4 linked regions of the Homo sapiens genome follow. The protein of the gene in region 1 purifies or fractionates together with the protein of each later gene. This does not show direct contact. Each region holds a gene or a part of one and is shown on either strand. Other genes may lie near its edges. The genes, in order: DIS3L, EXOSC1, THOP1 and EIF4E2.

Region 1 (3,500 bases):
TTTTTTTTTTTGAGATATGGAGTCTCACTCTGTCACCCAGGCTGGAGTACAGTGGTGCAATCTCGGCTCACTGCAAGCTCTACCTCCTGGGTTCACGTCATTCTCCTGCCTCAGCCTCTGGAGTAGCTGGGACTACAGGCGCCTGCCATCACGCCCGGGTAATTTTTTGTATTTTTAGTAGAAATGGGGTTTCACTGTGTTAGCCAGGATGGTCTTGATCTCCTGACCTCGTGATCCGCCTGCCTCGGCCTCCCAAAGTGCTGGGATTACAGGCATGAGCCACCGCGCCCGGCCAGCCTTTCTTTCTTTTCAAGCCTGTCCAATGAAAACCCTATTGGTGGAAGTCTAAATTAGCACTACTGATAAGGAAGACAATTTAGTAATATGTATTAAAGTTTCTTTGTCTTCTTTTTGAGATGGAGTCTCACTCTATCGCCTAGGCTGGAGTGCAATGGCGCGATCTTGGCTCCCTGCAACCTCTGCCTCCCGGGTTCAAGTGATTCTCCTGCCTCAGCCGCCCGATTAGCTGGGATTACAGGCATGCACCACCATGCCTGGCTAATTTTTGTATTTTTAGTAGTAACGGGGTTTCACCATGTTGGCCAGGCTGCTCTGGAACTCCTGAACTCAGGTGATCCACCGGCCTCGACCTCGAAAAGTGCTAGGATTACAGTCGTGAGCCACTGCACCTGACCTATCAGTTTCATTTGTGCATGCACACCTTTTGGCTCAGCAATTCCATTTCTAGGAATTTTTCCAGGAAATCATCTGAAATGTCTGTATAAGTGTATCCATAAGGATGGTTATAAATTTGATTGCTTAGAACAGTGCTGCCCAACAGAACTTTCTGCAATGATAGAAATGCTCTCTATCTGTGTTGCCTAATATGTAGCCACTAACCACAAGTGGCCACTGAGCTATACAATGTGGCCAGTGTGACTGAGACACTGGCCAAATTTCTACTGAGACAAATTTCTACTTCTAATTTTAATTAAATTTAGGTAGTCCACATGGCTAGTGCTACAACATTGCACAGCAGACAACTATACCATTGGATATAGAAAATTACATTAAACATTTAGGTAGTTTCCAATTTCCTGCGTTACCCAATAGTCTAGTTCTATGCTGTGCAATCTTGTAGCAACTAGTAATATGAAATAGAATAGAAAGCAGCTTCAAAACAATGATATAACATGGTGTGCTATCAATAACAGTTGGGTTACATGAAAAAAGCAGATTCAAACAGCAGGCACGGTGTGATTTTTTTTTTTTAGACGGAGTTTCGCTCTGTCACCCAGGCCAGAGTGCAGTGGTGCAATCTCAGCTCACTGCAAGCTCCGCCTCCCGGGTTCACACCATTCTCCTGCCTCAGCCTCCTGAGTAGCTGGGACTACAGGCGCCTGCCACCATGCTAATTTTTTGTATTTTTAGTAGAGATGGGGTTTCACTGTGTTAGCCCGGATGGTCTCGATCTCCTGACCTCGTGATCCACCTGCCTCAGCCTCCCAAAGTACTGGGAATACAGGTGCAAGCCACCGCATCTGGCCGATATTTTTATAAATAAAAATGTTAGCAGTGTCTAGAATCATTAATTGTTAGCTCTGGGTGGTAAGATAACAGGTGATGTTTCTGTCTTCATATCTTTTTTTTTTTTTGAGACACAGTCTCAATTTTGTCACCCAGGCTAGAGTGCAGTGGTGTGATCTCGGCCCACTGCAATCTCCACCTCCTGGGTTCAAGAGATTCTCCTGCCTCAGCCTCCCAAGTAACTGGGACTACAGGCGCGTGCCATCACACCCGGCTAATTTTTGTATTTTTTGTAGAGATGGGGTTTCACCATATTGGCCAGGCTGGTCTCAAATTCCTGACCTCAAGTGATCCGCCCTCAAGTGAGCCACCACGTCTGGCCTCTGTCATCATATCTTTATGCGTTGCTTGAATCTTTACATTTCCACCTTTCGGAAAAAAAAAAATCTGATAATCTACCGTCAAATCTCCCAAATCCACAAGTTACCTGAGAACATCTACAAATGTTCTGAAAGCACTGGTTAGAATAATTCTAGAATTTAATTTGCTAGAATATATGATACTTCACGGTACTACACAATAAAGCTGATATTTTCTTAGCAAGAGATGACAGGTAAGAGAATTTTGAAATTCCCTCTTACTTGGTTTCTGTTGTTGATATGTCTGCATAATTCCTCAAGATCTTTGTTGCTGAACAGATTTCCCTTAATTTCCATTTTCTTATCTTTTGAAATGGCTGCCATTAACAAGCGGTGTACTACAATATCTGAATATCTTCTTATTGGAGAAGTAAAGTGGGTATATTTATCTAATGCAAGACCTTCAAAAAGAAAGCAAAAGATCAAAATAAACAAAAACTATTTTAAAATAACTAGCGCAAAGTTACAGCCACACATAGGAATATGGTATGATTCACCGTAATGATGGAACTCCTCCTCCGCACAGGATCCGGTGGAGAAGTACAGAGCATTCGACATGGCCTGCGTGGCCATGGAGCGCAGTAGCCTGTTCACAATGGGATCGTGGGGGTCGTTCGCATTATCCAGAGAATCAGCCAGTGTTTTATTGGACCTGACAAAGAACAGAAAAACCGTTAGCTAGTCCCAGACAGTAATTTACAAGACAACACTTTGAGGGGAACCCTTCACTCATCCGTCTGAATACCTTCATCTGCCAGTAAATTTGTTTTGGACACGTTTCAGAAGCACCTCTTTTCAACTACAGAAATCTAGTTTGCTTTACGGCTTAAACAAAACAAGAGTGTCAGAATTTAAATACATTTCTTAAGTAGAAATGAATCATGTACTGATTTTAATACTAGGTTAAGTTAGTGCTTGGCTATAATAGGTGGTCAAATACTCGTTGAATTGAATTCTTTACATCCTTAACCTTAAACATTCTATATATAGGTAAAATAATGGACTTGGTGTACAAGTAAAAGAAACCTAAATTAGTTTTTCTTTTTTAAAGAGGTAGTAAGCATTCTATTTATTTATTCTCAAAATAATTTTTTTGTAGAGACAGGGTCTCACTTTGTTGCCCAGGCTAGTCTTGAACTCCTGGCCTTCAGTGATCCTCCTGCCTCGGCCTCCCAAAGTGCTGGGGTTACAGGTGTGAGCCACTGCATACAGCCTCAAAATAATAATTTCAAAGCCCCAGGAAATATAGAGGTATATTAAAAATAAAACTAATAACATATAATTCAGTCCTATATTGTGGCTGGCTAAGGGAAAAGGGGGAAAGGAGAAATAGAGCATGATGATGAACAGAGAGGCAAGGTGTTAAGTGGTCACTATGTGAGCTTGCAAGTTTAACAGACTTGGATTCAAATCTTGGCTCTGCCCTGACTGTTAAATTACAGGCAAATTACTTAATCTCTTCAGACTTAATTGACTTATCTGTAAATATGAATGATGCTGCCATCACCTCAGCATTAAGAATTAACCAAGAGGATGTCTGAAAGCCCTTGTCCC
Region 2 (4,579 bases), on another chromosome or scaffold:
AGAATCTAATGCCTGATGATCTGTCACTGTCTCCCATCACCCCCAGATGGGACCATCGAATTGCAGGGAAACAAACTCAGGGCTCCCGCTGATTCTATATTATGGTGAGCTGTATAATTATTTCATTATATATTACAGTGTAATAATAACAGAAATAAAGTGCACCATAAATGTAATGCACTTGAATCATTCTGCAACCACCCCCTCCATGGTCTGTGGAAAAACTGTCTTCCAAGAAACTGGTCCCTGGTGCCAAAAAGGTTGGGGACTGCTGCACTACAGAACCACATCAAATCCTGAGGCTGGAAAGGGCCTCAAAAGTTAGATTATCTGCCTGGCAAGAAATGTTTGTCCTTTCTCAAGGAAGCCACACGAAATCACCATCTCACCCACAAATCTTTTCAATGTTTTATAACCTCTGAGTTCAATCTATATTAAATTTTAAAGTGCTTCCTAAAATGCCTTCTACTTTTTTTTTTTTTTTTTTTGAGACGGAGTTTCACTCTTGTTGCCCAGGCTGGAGTACAATGGCACGATCTTGGCTCACCGCAAGCTCCGCCTCCCAGGTTCAAGTGATTCTCCTGCCTCAGCCTCCCTAGTAGCTGGGATTATAGGCATGTGCCACCACGCCTGGCTAATTTTGTATTTTTAGTAGAGACGGTGTTTCTCCATGTTGGTCAGGCTGGTCTCGAACTCCCGACCTCAGGTGATCCGCCCGCCTCGGCCTCCCAAAGTGCTGGGATTACAGGCATGAGCCACCACGCCCAGCCTGCCTTCTACTTTGGTTTGAGTCATCCTGACACTGCTAAACTTCAGCTTCACTCAATTCTTTTTGCTTTACCTTTTATTTATTTATTTGTTTTTTGAGACAGGGTCTCACTCTGTTGCCCAGGCTAGAGTGCAGTGGTGCAATCTCAGCTCACTGCAACCTCTGCCTCCTAGGCTCAAGTGATCTTCCTGCTTCAGCTCCACAAGTAGCTGGGAGTACAGGCACGCACCACCATGCCCAGCTAATTTTTTTTTTTTTTTTTTTTAAAGACAGAGTCTCGCTCTGTCCCCCAGGCTGGAGTGCAATGGCGCAATCTTGGCTCACTGCAACCTCTGCCTCCTGGGTTCAAGCGATTCTTTGGCTTCAGCCTCCTGAGCAGCTGGGATTACAGGCACACGCCAACATGTCCGGCTAGTTTTTGTATTTTTAGTAGAGACAGGGTTTCACCACACTGGCCAGGCTGGTCTCAAACCCCTGACTTTGTGATCCACCCACCTCAGCCTCCCAAAGTGATAGGATTACAGGTGTGAGCCACTGTGCCTGGCTAATTTTTGTATTTTTTACAGAGATGGGGTTTCACCATGTTGGCTAGGCTGGTCTCAAACTCCTGATCTCAAGAGATCCACCCGCCTCAGCTTCTCAAAGTGCTAGGATAACAGGCGTGAGCCACCGCGCCCAGCCTTTGCTTTACTTTTAAACCCTCTCGTTAATATTTTCCTTTTGTCCTAGATCATCCATGTATTTTTTGGATACTACTAGGGGAGAATCAAAGCACAAAGAAGAAAGAAAAACGGGCAAAAGAAAAATAGGAATTGTAACTGTTGCTCAAAATTCTGGTGTCCTAGTCTATCCTAATCTTATTCCAGTTGCTAAGGTATATGTGAAAAGGATACTTCTTACCGGATAGTTCCTCGAAAAGAGTTCTTAAGAGGCATGGACCCCACATACAGGATGTGTACTTTGGCAAAGCGTGAATTGATGCTAGAGACCTGCGGAATAGAGAAAAGATCAGCATCAGAGTATAAGCAGTTGTCAGCTCAAGGAGGCAGCAATAAACTGGGGATTACTAGGGCTTCAGTGCAAGCAACCCTACTAAGTAGAGAATTTAAGACAAATTAACTCCTACTTCTCTCTGCGTAAGTGACACATGTAAAGAGGAATAAGAGCCACTCTGGCCACCTGGTAGAGTTACTATGGGAAACAAAGGTGGTATGGGTTTTTTTTTTTTTTTTTTTTTGAGACGGAGTTTCACTCTTGTTGCCCAGGCTGGAGTGCAATGGCGCGATCTTGGCTCACCGCAACCTCCGCCTCCTGGGTTCAAATAATTCTCCTGCCTTAGCCTCCTGAATAGCTGGGATTACAGGCATGCACCACCATGCCCAGCTAATTTTGTATTTCTAGTAGAGACAGGGTTTCTCCATGTTGGTCAGGCTGGTCTCGAACTCCTGATCTCAGGTGATTCGCCTGCTTCAGCCTCCCAAAGTGCTGGGATTACAGGTGTAAGCCACTGCATCCGGCTGGGTTTTTTTTTTTTTTTTTAAATCTTTTCACAACTTGCCCTTCAGAGAGGTATAGACTTTTTAAAGTATAGATGGCTAACAATTAAAAAAAAAAAAAAAAAAGAGGCTGGACACAGTGGCTCATGCCTGTAATCCCAGCACTTTGGGAGGCTGAGGTGGGCGCATCACTTGAGGTCAGGAGTTCAGGACCAGCCTGGCCAACATGGTAAAACCCCACCTGTACTAAAAATACAAAAATTAGCCAGGCGTGGCAGCACATGCCTATAATCCCAGCTACTCGGGAGGCAGAGGCAGTAGAATTGCTTGAACCCAAGAGGCCAGAGGCTGCAGTGAGCCGAGATCGTGCCACTGCACTCCAGCCTGGGTGACAGAGCAAGGCCCTGTCTCAAAAAAAAAAAAACAGGAATGGCAAAAAATAAAGTCTTTTGCTTCTCTGCAGAAAAAGAACTCAGCTTCAGATGTTCAAAAATAGGCCTCCTAATCATCCTCTGGCATCCCTGTTTCCCAGACACAGGTAGAACTATGTATTCAGGGAATCAGCTCAGTGAAGGAACTATGCATGCCTGAACTTGGCTGCCTTGATTATTATCCTAGAAATCTGTAAGCCTGCACAGTCCAGTAAAACTTTCTGTGATGACAGAAAAGTCATGTGCTGACCAGTATAGCAACCACTAGCCACAAGTGGCTATTGAGTACTTGAAATGTGGCTAATGTGACTAAGGAAATCAATTTTATTTTTTTCTTGAGAGACAGAGTCTTGCCCTGTTACCCAAGCTGGAGTGATCATGGCTCACTGCAGCCTCAACCCCCTGGGCCCAAGCGATCTTCCTGCTTCAGCCTCCCAAGTAGTTGGGACCACAAGCATGTGCTACCATGCCTGGCTAATTTTTTATTCTTCTTCTTCTTTTTTTTTGAGACGGAGTCTCACTCTGTTGCCCAGGCTGGACTGCTGTGACGCAGGCTCACTGCAACCTCCACCTCCTGGGTTCAAGCACTTCTCCTGCCTCAGCCTCCCGAGTAGCTGGGATTACAGGCATGCACCACCACGCTAAGCTAATTTTTGTATTTTTGGTAGAGACAGGGTTTCACCATGTTGGCCATGATTGGCCAGGCTGGTCTTGAACTCCTGACCACAGGTGATCTGCCCACCTCGGCCTCCCAAAGTGCTGGGATTACAAGCATGAGCCACCATGCCCGGCAATTTTTGATTCTTTTTGTAGAGATGAGGTTTCACTATGTTTCCCAGGCTGGTCTTGAACTCTGGGCTGAAGCAATCCTCCTGCCTCGGCCTCTTAAAGTGCTAGAATTACCAGTGTGAGCCACTGTGCCCTGCCAGAAATAAATTTATGTAGCTTGTGGCTATCATACTGGACACTGCAGTTCTGGTATGGTCATGATTTCAGTATTGAATGGGCATTCTAAGCATGGAGGTCAGGACCAACTTACCTTACAGGTTACAATAGCTCCCACATCTGGCAGTAACTGGGACTCTGTTTCTCTCACTACAGACACCACTGGAAGCTACAGAGGGAACAACAAAAAACTGAAATGTCCTGACTAACCCTTGGGTCAAGGCATTTGTGGCTTGAGAGTAATATAGGAATGTCTTGGTATAAAGGTGAGAGTTGGAGTATGGATTCATTTATAGCCCAGAGCAGAAGGCCTTAGAAATTTTAGGAAATAGGAGGACCAGGAGGCTACAGAATGCTGCTAGAAGACATACATCTCTAAACTTCTTTTTTTGTTGTTGGAGACGGAGTCTTGCTCTGTCGCCTAGACTGGAGTGCAGTGGCACGATCTCGGCTCACTGCAAGGTCCACTTCCCGGGTTCACGCCATTCTCCTGCCTCAGCCTCCCGAGTAGCTGGGACTACAGGCACCCGCCACCATGCCCAGCTACTTTTTTTTGTAGTAAATCTCTAAACTTCTAATAAGTTTTTTGGTGATTCTCTCAGAATTTCTTGGTATACAACTATATTGCCTATAATCATTGACAATTTTACTTTTTTTGTTTTTTTTTGAAATGGAGTTTCACTCTTGTTGCCTAGGATGGAGTGCAAGGGTGCCATCTTGGTTCACTGCAACCTCCACCTCCTGGGTTCAAGTGATTCTCCTGCCTCAGCCTCCCGAGTAGCTGGGATTACAGAAGCCTGTCACCATGCTCGGGTAATTTTTTGTATTTTTAGTAGAGATGGGGTTTCACCATGTTGGCCAGGCTGGTCTCGAACTCCTGACCTCAGGTGATCCACCTGCCTTGGCTTCCCAAAGTGCTGGGATTACAGGTGTGAGCC
Region 3 (4,579 bases), on another chromosome or scaffold:
CTGTCAGGTGTGGCCCTGGCCAAGAGTGCTCCAGACCCTCCTATCCATTAAGGAATCACCTTCAGAGCCTGCAGCCTAAGCTTTTCAACATTCTTCTGAGACAGGGACTCGCTCTGTTGCCCAGGCTGGAATGCAGTGGCATGATCTCGACTCACTGCAGCCTCAACCTCCCAACTCAATTGATCCTCCTGCCTTAGCCTCCTGAGTAGCTAGGACTACAGGTACACGCCACTACACCCAGCTAATTTTTGTATGTTTGGTACAGACGGGGTTTCACCATGTTGCTCAGGCTGGTTTCGAACTCCTGGGCTCAAGCAATCCTCCCACCTCAGCCTCCCAAAGTGCTGGGATTACAGGCATGAGTCACCGTGTCTGGCAGCTTTTGAACATTTTACCCCTTATCTGGTAAAGCTGGTTTTAGAAACAGCTAAAACTCGACCCTGGTGATATGGGATATCAACAAAGGAACTGAATCTTGAGTGGTCCCTCTGGTGGCCTTGAAGGCTGGGAGGTGACCACTATGTGACAAGGACCTGGCTTGAGGCCACATGACACATGACAGGCTGGCAGCAGGGCTGTACTTTGACTCAGATTCTCCTGCTGGAAGCTCCGCCAGGCGGGTCTGGAGCCCAGCTCCATGGGGCCAGAGCAGAAATGCTCATCCGCAGGACAGAGGGCGGCAGCAGGGGGAAACTGTGCCCAGGACTTTGCAGGGAGCCTGTATCTTGTCAGGAAGGCCCTGGTTCAGAACCAGCTGAGGGTTTGCTGGGCCTCTCCTGGGAACAGGCCCCATGCTGGGCAATTCCCAATGTCTCCCCCTCTTGCCATCTCACATAACAAACCCAGCCATGCCAGGGAAGGCTCTGGAGACTCAATGAGCACACAGCGCTGGCCCTAAGGGCCGCGGGGACGCGCTGGAACTCTGCTCGCCAGCATCCGGACCTCGCACCTTTTCCGCGCTTCTGTCCTCCAGGCGGGGCTGCCTCTGCTCCCTCCTTGCTTGCTGGCCCTTGTGGGAGAGTTTGTGGCTTCTACCATGCACATGGCCACACATGCTGGGCATGCAACAAGCCGAAGGGGTTTTAAAAATAACTGTGGTACAGTGGCTCACACCCGTAATCCCAGCAGTTTGGGAGGCCAAGGCGGGTGAATCACTTGAGGTTAGGAGTTTGAGACCAGCCTGGCCAATGTGGTAAAACCCTGTCTCTATCAAAAATAAAAAAAAATTAGCCAGCTGTGTTGGCGGGTGCCCGTAATCCCAGCTACTCCAGAGGCTGAGGCAGGAGAATCGCTTGAACATAGGAGGCAGAGGTTGCAGCGAGCTGAGATCACACCGTTGCACTCCAGCCTGGGAGACAGAGTGTGACTCCCTGTCTAAATAAATAAATAAATGCATAAATAAAAATAAAAATAACTGGCTCTTGTCCGCTGCGGCTGAGCTGAGGACCCCCAGTCCCCGAGTACTGAGACGGACCCTGACTCCGCTTTCGTCAGTGCTGGTTTCACTGACAAACCCACCTGGCCTCTCTGAGTCTTGGTTGCCTCAGCCATAAGGTGGAGACGCCCCCTAACCAGGACAGCGGTGGCTTTATGGAACCGGAACAGGGACAGCCATGGGGCTATGGCTGCAGCCTGGGACCTGATTGAACTGTGTGCTTTCTTTCCTGTACAGATGCTCCCTGACTTAGGACAGGGGTATGTCCCAATAATCCCATCGTGAGTTGTGAATATCATAAATCACAAATGCATTTAATAGGAGCGAACATCACAGCTTAACCTGGCCTGTCTTAAGCGTGCTCAGGAACTCACAGCAGCCCACATTCTGGTGAGATCGCCGAAGGCAAAGGCTATCGGATATGAGGTGTTGGGTATCTCATGTAACTTCGGTTTTCAGTTTGCCTGCGTCATTGCAGGCTAGCTGGTAGCTGTGGCTGGCGCCCAGCGTCACAGGACAGCAAGTGCCCAAGTGGCCGGCCTCGGAAAGATCAGCATTCCAAGCACGGTTTCTACTGAACACACACCATGGTGAATCAGGGGCCTGTATTCTGATGCTTTGACATTTGGGTGCCTTGCTGGCCCTCGAGAAATGGCCCCTCCCAGAGACAGCCAACAGCTCGCCTGCAAACATCTTTCACGTGCAAATCAACTAGTCTCGAGCCCCTACACTCTGGGGCACCATCCACCGGCCCCCATTACCCTAGGGCCAGGCACCCGATGAGGGGCAGCCCCCATGCCAGGGCTGGCTGAGATGGTCCAGCCGGCCAACCCTGAGCCCACTCCCCGCTACACCCATGCCTTCACAAGGGACCCCAGCGAAGGCCCTGCCCAGAGCACACCTCCTGACCCAGCCATGCTTCCCATGTGGCGAGCTGCCAGTTCCTGGGAACTGTGACACGCATCTTTCCAGTGGCGGTCGCCACTGCTCTGTTGGTGCCGCTGAACACTGGGCTTCTGCTAACACACTACGCTTGACTTCAGCGCTGCGCTCCCAGCTCTGCACCAACTAACTCATGTCACCCCTGAGACGCCCACATCAGGCACACCGGGCAGTGGGTGGAGGGGCTCCCCTCGTTACCGAGCCTCTGCGCCCCATGTCTGTGTGGACCTGCCTTGCCAGAGTTCAGGTCCTCAGGCAGAAGAAAGATGGACATCAGGCCGGGGGTCAGCCCTGAAGGGGGGACGCTCCCGAGGAGGCAGGGGCAGGGGGCCACAGAAGCTCCACTGGCCACGCCCAGCACTCCCCGCACCCAGTACTCCCTGAGCCCAGCACTCCCCGCAACTGAGCACTCCCCAGGACTGAGCACTCCCCGTGCCCAGTACTCCCCATGCCGAGTACTCCCCAGACTGAGCACTCCCCACACCCAGTACTCCCTGGGACCGAGCACTCCCCCCACCCAGCACTCCCCAAGCCCAAGCACTCCCTGAGCTCAGTACTCCCCATGCCCAGTGCTCCCTGGGACCGAGCACTCCTCACACCCAGCACTCCCGGCACCCAGCACTCCCTGTGCCCAAGCACTCCCTGAGTCCAGCACTCCCCGGGACGCAGCACTCCCTGAACCCAGCACTCCTGATGCCCCAAGCACTCCCTGAGCCGAGCACTCCCCGAGCCCAGCACTCCCCCTGCCCTGCGCTTCTTGCTCCCACCACTCCCTGGGACTGAGCACTCCCTGTGCCCAGCACTCCCCGGGATCGACCATTGCCCACGCCCAGCACTCCCTACACCCAGCACTCACTTCCTGAGTCTCTCTGGGGAGGTGAAGCCCATTTCTCCGGCCCAGCTTGATTAGCCGCTCCAGGTACCGCGCAGCCTCGGGCCTCAGTGAGTCCTTCTGAACTTTCTCCTGGAATAAAAACATCAAAGCATGTAGGACGTGGGCCAGTGCAGCCGCTCCAAAGAGCAGTTTGGCAGTTTCTTAAAAACCTGATCATCCGGCCCCCGTGTGACTTGGCAACTGCACTCCTGGGCATTTATCTCAGAGAAATGACGACCTGTCTCTACATAAAACCTGTGCAAACGTTCGCTTTGTTTGGAAGAGCCCCACACTGACATCAGTCCAGAGCTCCTTCACCAGTGCGATGGCTGAATGGGAATTAGATTGCTGGTGGTCTCCAGGTCGGTATCGGGGTGTAGATGACACCATAGTTTTGCAAAACGTCATCACTGGGGACCTGGGCAAAGTTGGCAAAGGCATTCGATTCTTTCCTGCACCTGCATGGGAACCTCTCATTGTCTCAACAGAAACTCTGGAAAGTGGAGGTGGGAGGATTGCGTGGGCCCAGGAGTTCGAGACAAGCGTGGGCAACGTTGTGAGACCCTGTCTGTATTTAAATAAAAAGAAATAACAATCCACGGCTATCATGGGTCACCCTGATCTGGATTTACCAAAGCACTAGGGCTGCATGATCCTGAGACTGTGGGACACATCAGCACATTCCCAGGGGTCCTCGCCTAAGAGGATGAACAGCAGCAGGAGGGTCTCTGGGTCTCTCCTGATCATGTGACATCAACAGCAAAGGCCCCACTGCATACTGCGAGGAGCATCCGGGGGAGCAGGAGCCCACGCAGCCATGCCGCCAGGCCCTGCCAGCTCACGCCATGTGGGGATGGGGTGTTTGGGTCACACTAGGATGGCCAGGAAAGGAAATGAAAGTGCACATGTGTGGCCGGGCGTGGTGGCTCAGGCCTGTGATCCCAGCACTTTGGGAGGCCAAGGCGGGCGGATCACCTGAGGTCAGGAGTTTGAGAACAGCCTGACCAACATGGCAAAACCCTGTGCCTACTAAAAATACAAAAAATGGGCCGGGCACAGTGGCTCACACCTGTCATCCCAGCACTGTGGGAGGCCGAGGTGGGCGGATCACTTGAGGTCAGGAGTTCGAGACTAGCCTGACCAACACGTTGAAACCCCGTCTCTACTAAAAATACAAAAATTAGCCGGGTGTGGTGGCGGGCGCCTGTAATCCTAGTTACTTGGGAGGCTATTTGCACTCCCCGCAGGGCCCCCTCACCTGGAGCCACACGATCCTCTGGTACACGTCCTCCCTCATGCTCATCTCCACGTCGAACTCAGAGAGCTTC
Region 4 (4,579 bases), on another chromosome or scaffold:
ATGATGTAGAGTGGTATGTGTGGTACATGTGGTTGATTCTATCACTTACGCTTAGTAACTAAACAGGTCTAAGAGGTATTTACATGTGGTTGATTCTATCACTTATGCTTACTAACTAAACAGGTCTAAGAGGTATTTCATTCAGCAAATGCTATATTTGCCAGTTAAACAATCTTTCATCGGTAAGTGATTTGGTTCTAAAAAATGCATTCAGGCTGAGGCTGTGTGACACTTACATACCTCAAGGCTAAAGAGTTTCCATTGTGCAAAAACCTGGTCCTCTTACTGCATGTGATGACTACCCTGCAGCTTGAGTGGGAGAGTGCGTATTAACATGGTTTCACCAACTAAAGCTCCTGGCTGAGGCTTGCATTTCTCACCAAAGATTTTATTCTTGAATTGCGAATGTTACATTTTTTATTTTGTCAAACTAGATGGTATGTTTTTCCTCTAATATGTCTTCCCTCACAACACCACACATGAAAATGAGTCCTCTGAAAAGGACAGCCTGTAGTATAGTGTCTTCCATGCTTATGTTCTTAACTAAATCTCAACCTTGGGATGCATTCAAAGAAAAGTAAAAGACACATGTTTTTTACTCTGGGGTCTTCTCTCTGCAGGTGGAGCAGTTCTGGAGGTTTTATAGCCACATGGTACGTCCTGGGGACCTGACAGGCCACAGTGACTTCCATCTCTTCAAAGAAGGAATTAAACCCATGTGGGAGGTAAGGACTAATGGCTTCTGACTGCTTTTTTGAGCAAGTTTGGGTTTTTTTGTTTTGTCTCTTAGCCCTGCCAAGGTTAAAAGTATTTTATTTTATTTTATTTTATTTTATTTTATTTGAGACGGAGTGTCGCTCTGTCACCCAGGCTGAGCGCAGTGGCGCGATCTCGGCTCACTGCAAGCTCCGCCTCCCAGGTTCACGCCATTCTCTTGCCTCAGCCTCCCTAGTAGCTGGGACTACAGGCGCCCACCACCGCGCCCGGCTAATTTTTTGTGTTTTTTAGTAGAGACGGAGTTTCACCGTGTTAGCCAGGATGGTCTCGATCTCCTGACCTCGTGATCCGCCCGCCTTGGACTCCCAAAATGCTGGGATTACAGGCGTGAGCCACCGTGCCCAGCTGGTTAAAAGTGTTTTAAAGTCTCTCAAAACTGCATCACTCTCCAGTATATCCTTGGAACCCGAGCCTCTAGAGAAATGCACTGATGCCATTTTTTGTCTGTGTGGGTTGGTGCTGGGTGTTTTTTAAAGACTGTTTTATGACTAAAATGGTATTAGAACATTAAAGGATTTTTGTTTTCAGTTACCTTTATCCTTATAGAACTTGTTTGTGCGTGTGTGTAATATTTTTACATAGTACACATATGATTAAAGTGGGTAAGAAAATAAGTTTAAAGGCAGGAACTGGAGACCTAGAACTTTGCAGAGCCAGTATTCGGCTGCGCCCTGGTGTAGTGCATCTTCTATTCTGGTGCCATGGCATTTTTCGAGAAGACAAATGTGGTCACATCCACGCCACCCATCTTATACAGCTCCTCATTGCTCACATGATCTTGCACCTCATTTACCTTTCAAGCCTCATCTCCCATCATCTCTAAATCTTCCCTTCCCTGCAGGTGGACCCTCCTGTCAGTTTATGCACAGACATGTTCTTCCCAGTGCCCGCAGTGCCCTTCAGCTGCTTTTCCTGACTCACTCCCGTTGACCTTAAGACCCACTTCTTGGCAGGGCATGGTGGCCCATGCCTGTAATCCCAGCACTTTGGGAGGTCGAGGTGGACAGATCACCTGAGGTCAGGAGTTTGAGGCCAGCCTGGCCAACATGGTGAAACCCCGTCTCTACTAAAAATACAAAAATTAGCCAGGTGTGGTGGCACGCGCCTGTAATCCCAGCTACTCGGGAGGCTGAGACAGGAGACTCACTTGAACCCAGGAGGTGGAGGTTGCACTGAGCCAAGATTGTGCCACTGCACTCCAGCCTGGGTGACAGAGCGAGACTCCATCTCAAAAAAAGAAAAGAAAAAAAAAGACCCACTTCTTGACTGTTTCCAACTATCTTGTTCTTCCTTAACATAGTGTGCATATCTGTTAACAGCAGCACTTATAATTATAGTATCATTGCTGTAATTAATATCCTTGGCTGTCTCTTCTACTGGACTGGATCTGAGTAGAGATTGGGGCTTCAGCCAGGCGCAGTGGCTCACTCCTGTAATCCCAGCACTTTGGGAATCCGAGGCAGACAGATCACGAGGTCAAGGGTTCGAGACCAGCCTGGCCAATATGGTGAAACCCTGTCTCTACTAAAAATACAATAATTAGCCGGGTGTGGTGGCATGTGCCTGTAGTCCCAGCTACCCAGGAGGCAGAGACAGGAGAATCGCTTGAACCCAAGAGGCAGAAGTGGCAGTGAGCCGATATCGCACCACTGCACTCCAGACTGGGTGACAGCGGGAGACTCCATCGCAAAAAAGAAAAAAAAAAAAACTAGATTGGGGCTTCATGTCTGTGTACTTGGTATGTAGTGACAGTCAGTACTTTTTTTTGTCGTCGTTGTTGTTTTGTTTTGTTTTGTTTTTTGAGACGGAGTCTTGCTGTGTTTCCCAGGCGGGAGTGCAGTGGCACGATCTCGGCTCCCTGCAAGCTCTGCCTCCCGAGTTCACGCCATTCTCCCGCCTCAGCCTCCCGAGTAGCTGGGACTACAGGCGCCCACCACCATGCCCGGCTAATTTTGTTTTTGTATTTTTAGTAGAGACGCGGTTTCACCGTGTCAGCCAGGATGGTCTCGATCTCCTCACCTCGTGATTCGCCCACCTCAGCCTTCCAAAGTGTTGGGATTACGGGCGTGAGCCACTGCGCCCAGCAGACATTCAGTACTTTTAGCAAGTAAACGGATGATCTGTGCTTGAAATATGACATCATTTCGTTTTGATTCCTAAAGTATTTCCAGTAAAGGGGATTATTTTTAAAAGGTCTGTTTAGCCATTTTAATAAATGGCTTATGCCAAGGATCCCAGCCTTGTTTTTCTTTTTTTCCCCATTTCTTCTCTCCCTAGTCCTACCATCAGTTTTTCTATAGAGTTGAATAATTGGAAAGTGATATGACTTCTTAGTGTTTAAGAGATTCTTGGCTTTTTACTGCCTTCATACAAAAAAAGGCTGTGAAACCATATTTTAACTTCAGTGCTTTCTGTCTTTTTACAGGATGATGCAAATAAAAATGGTGGCAAGTGGATTATTCGGCTGCGGAAGGGCTTGGCCTCCCGTTGCTGGGAGAATCTCATTTTGGCCATGCTGGGGGAACAGTTCATGGTTGGGGAGGAGATCTGTGGGGCTGTGGTGTCTGTCCGCTTTCAGGTAAGCCACCCATGAGCCAGGCTGGTTTCTTGTGTTGCCTTTGCTCTCCTCGCTGCCCCTGATTTGCTTTGATGATTCCTTCTGTTCCTCTGGTAGGAAGACATTATTTCAATATGGAATAAGACTGCCAGTGACCAAGCAACCACAGCCCGAATCCGGGACACACTTCGGCGAGTGCTTAACCTACCTCCCAACACCATTATGGAATACAAAACTCACACCGACAGCATCAAGTACGTGTTGGGGGGTTATGGGAGGACGTGTCCCTAAGCTTAGTATAAGTAGATCTGTAGTTGGGCCCAGAGGAATATGGCCGGACAGGAGACTTACTTGTGGAGAAGGGACAGACCAGGCCTTCCCTCTAGGGCTTCTGGCTACTTGCTGCAGTTCTTTGTCAGCGAGGCTCCCTGCCACCTATACTACCAGGTGCTTTGTAGCAGAGAGAGCCCATCTGCAGAAACCCAGTTGTACTACCTGGGCTTGCTTAATTTCTACAGGCTGTCTTGTCTTTCATATGCTAACCACTATCTTAAAATGAAAGACAAGTGCTTTTCTTTTTCTTGCTGTTTTTTAAGATAATTTCACCCTGCCCACCCTCACCCCACTTCTGCATGTCTTTTTAACTTGTTAGCTTCAGTCTATTTTCTTTGTCCTGGGATACTGACTACTTATCAGGAATGACTCCATTTCCTTGTGTATAGAGCTGACTCTTAGAAGAAGGGGGATAGTGTGTGTGTGAGAGAGCAGAATCAAAGGGAAGCATGAAGGCCACAGGGAAAATAAGCTTGGCAATCTCCCTAGGACTCAGGGAAATAGAGCTCTCTGTCCACAGTGAGAATCACTGTTAGGCTTGCTCCTCAGTGATTGAGTGTCAGAAGTAAGCTCAGGCTATTGTGAAAAAGTGTGGGGAGTGGCTGTCAGATTGTCTCAAAGCTGGAGGGAGAGCTAGCCAGCTAAGAGTTAGGACTCTTAGGTTTAGTTCTCTCATATGGCCCCATACCAATATGTGCCTTTGACAAGTGTCTTTGCAACTTTGCTTCAGTTTCTCCATCTGTAAAGTGGGAGACAGTACTTTATCTAACAAGGCTATTGTGAGGCTGATTTAATCTTTAACTGAGGGTCTTCAGATGGAGAATGCTTTTACGGGGCCAAGTAGTAGTATTGCTATCATCATCATCATCATTAGTAAGAATATCATCATGTTGTTATTATTGAAGGCTAGTA

The links.
Region 2: the proteins of DIS3L (region 1) and EXOSC1 purify together in Homo sapiens (affinity purification with mass spectrometry; 5 studies listed by BioGRID and IntAct, with this or other methods). This does not show direct contact.
Region 3: the proteins of DIS3L (region 1) and THOP1 purify together in Homo sapiens (affinity purification with mass spectrometry, with the first as the bait; one large-scale study listed by BioGRID). This does not show direct contact.
Region 4: the proteins of DIS3L (region 1) and EIF4E2 purify together in Homo sapiens (affinity purification with mass spectrometry; 3 studies listed by BioGRID and IntAct, with this or other methods). This does not show direct contact.

The regions. Positions count from the first base shown.
Region 1 is NC_000015.10:66,328,068-66,331,567, reverse strand, and holds part of DIS3L (DIS3-like exonuclease 1), read right to left. Parts: intron 2,599-3,500; coding exon 2,444-2,598; intron 2,348-2,443; coding exon 2,169-2,347; intron 1,956-2,168; coding exon of another isoform or gene 1,944-1,955; exon of another isoform or gene 1-1,943. UniProt on the Homo sapiens protein: Catalytic component of the RNA exosome complex which has 3'->5' exoribonuclease activity and participates in a multitude of cellular RNA processing and degradation events.
Region 2 is NC_000010.11:97,439,502-97,444,080, forward strand, and holds part of EXOSC1 (exosome complex component CSL4), read right to left. Parts: intron 3,811-4,579; coding exon 3,736-3,810; intron 1,759-3,735; coding exon 1,670-1,758; intron 1-1,669. UniProt on the Homo sapiens protein: Non-catalytic component of the RNA exosome complex which has 3'->5' exoribonuclease activity and participates in a multitude of cellular RNA processing and degradation events.
Region 3 is NC_000019.10:2,794,843-2,799,421, reverse strand, and holds part of THOP1 (thimet oligopeptidase), read right to left. Parts: coding exon 4,510-4,579; intron 3,342-4,509; coding exon 3,234-3,341; intron 1-3,233. UniProt on the Homo sapiens protein: Involved in the metabolism of neuropeptides under 20 amino acid residues long. Involved in cytoplasmic peptide degradation. Able to degrade the amyloid-beta precursor protein and generate amyloidogenic fragments.
Region 4 is NC_000002.12:232,563,627-232,568,205, forward strand, and holds part of EIF4E2 (eukaryotic translation initiation factor 4E type 2), read left to right. Parts: intron 1-620; coding exon 621-725; intron 726-3,202; coding exon 3,203-3,355; intron 3,356-3,451; coding exon 3,452-3,588; intron 3,589-4,579. UniProt on the Homo sapiens protein: Recognizes and binds the 7-methylguanosine-containing mRNA cap during an early step in the initiation. Acts as a repressor of translation initiation.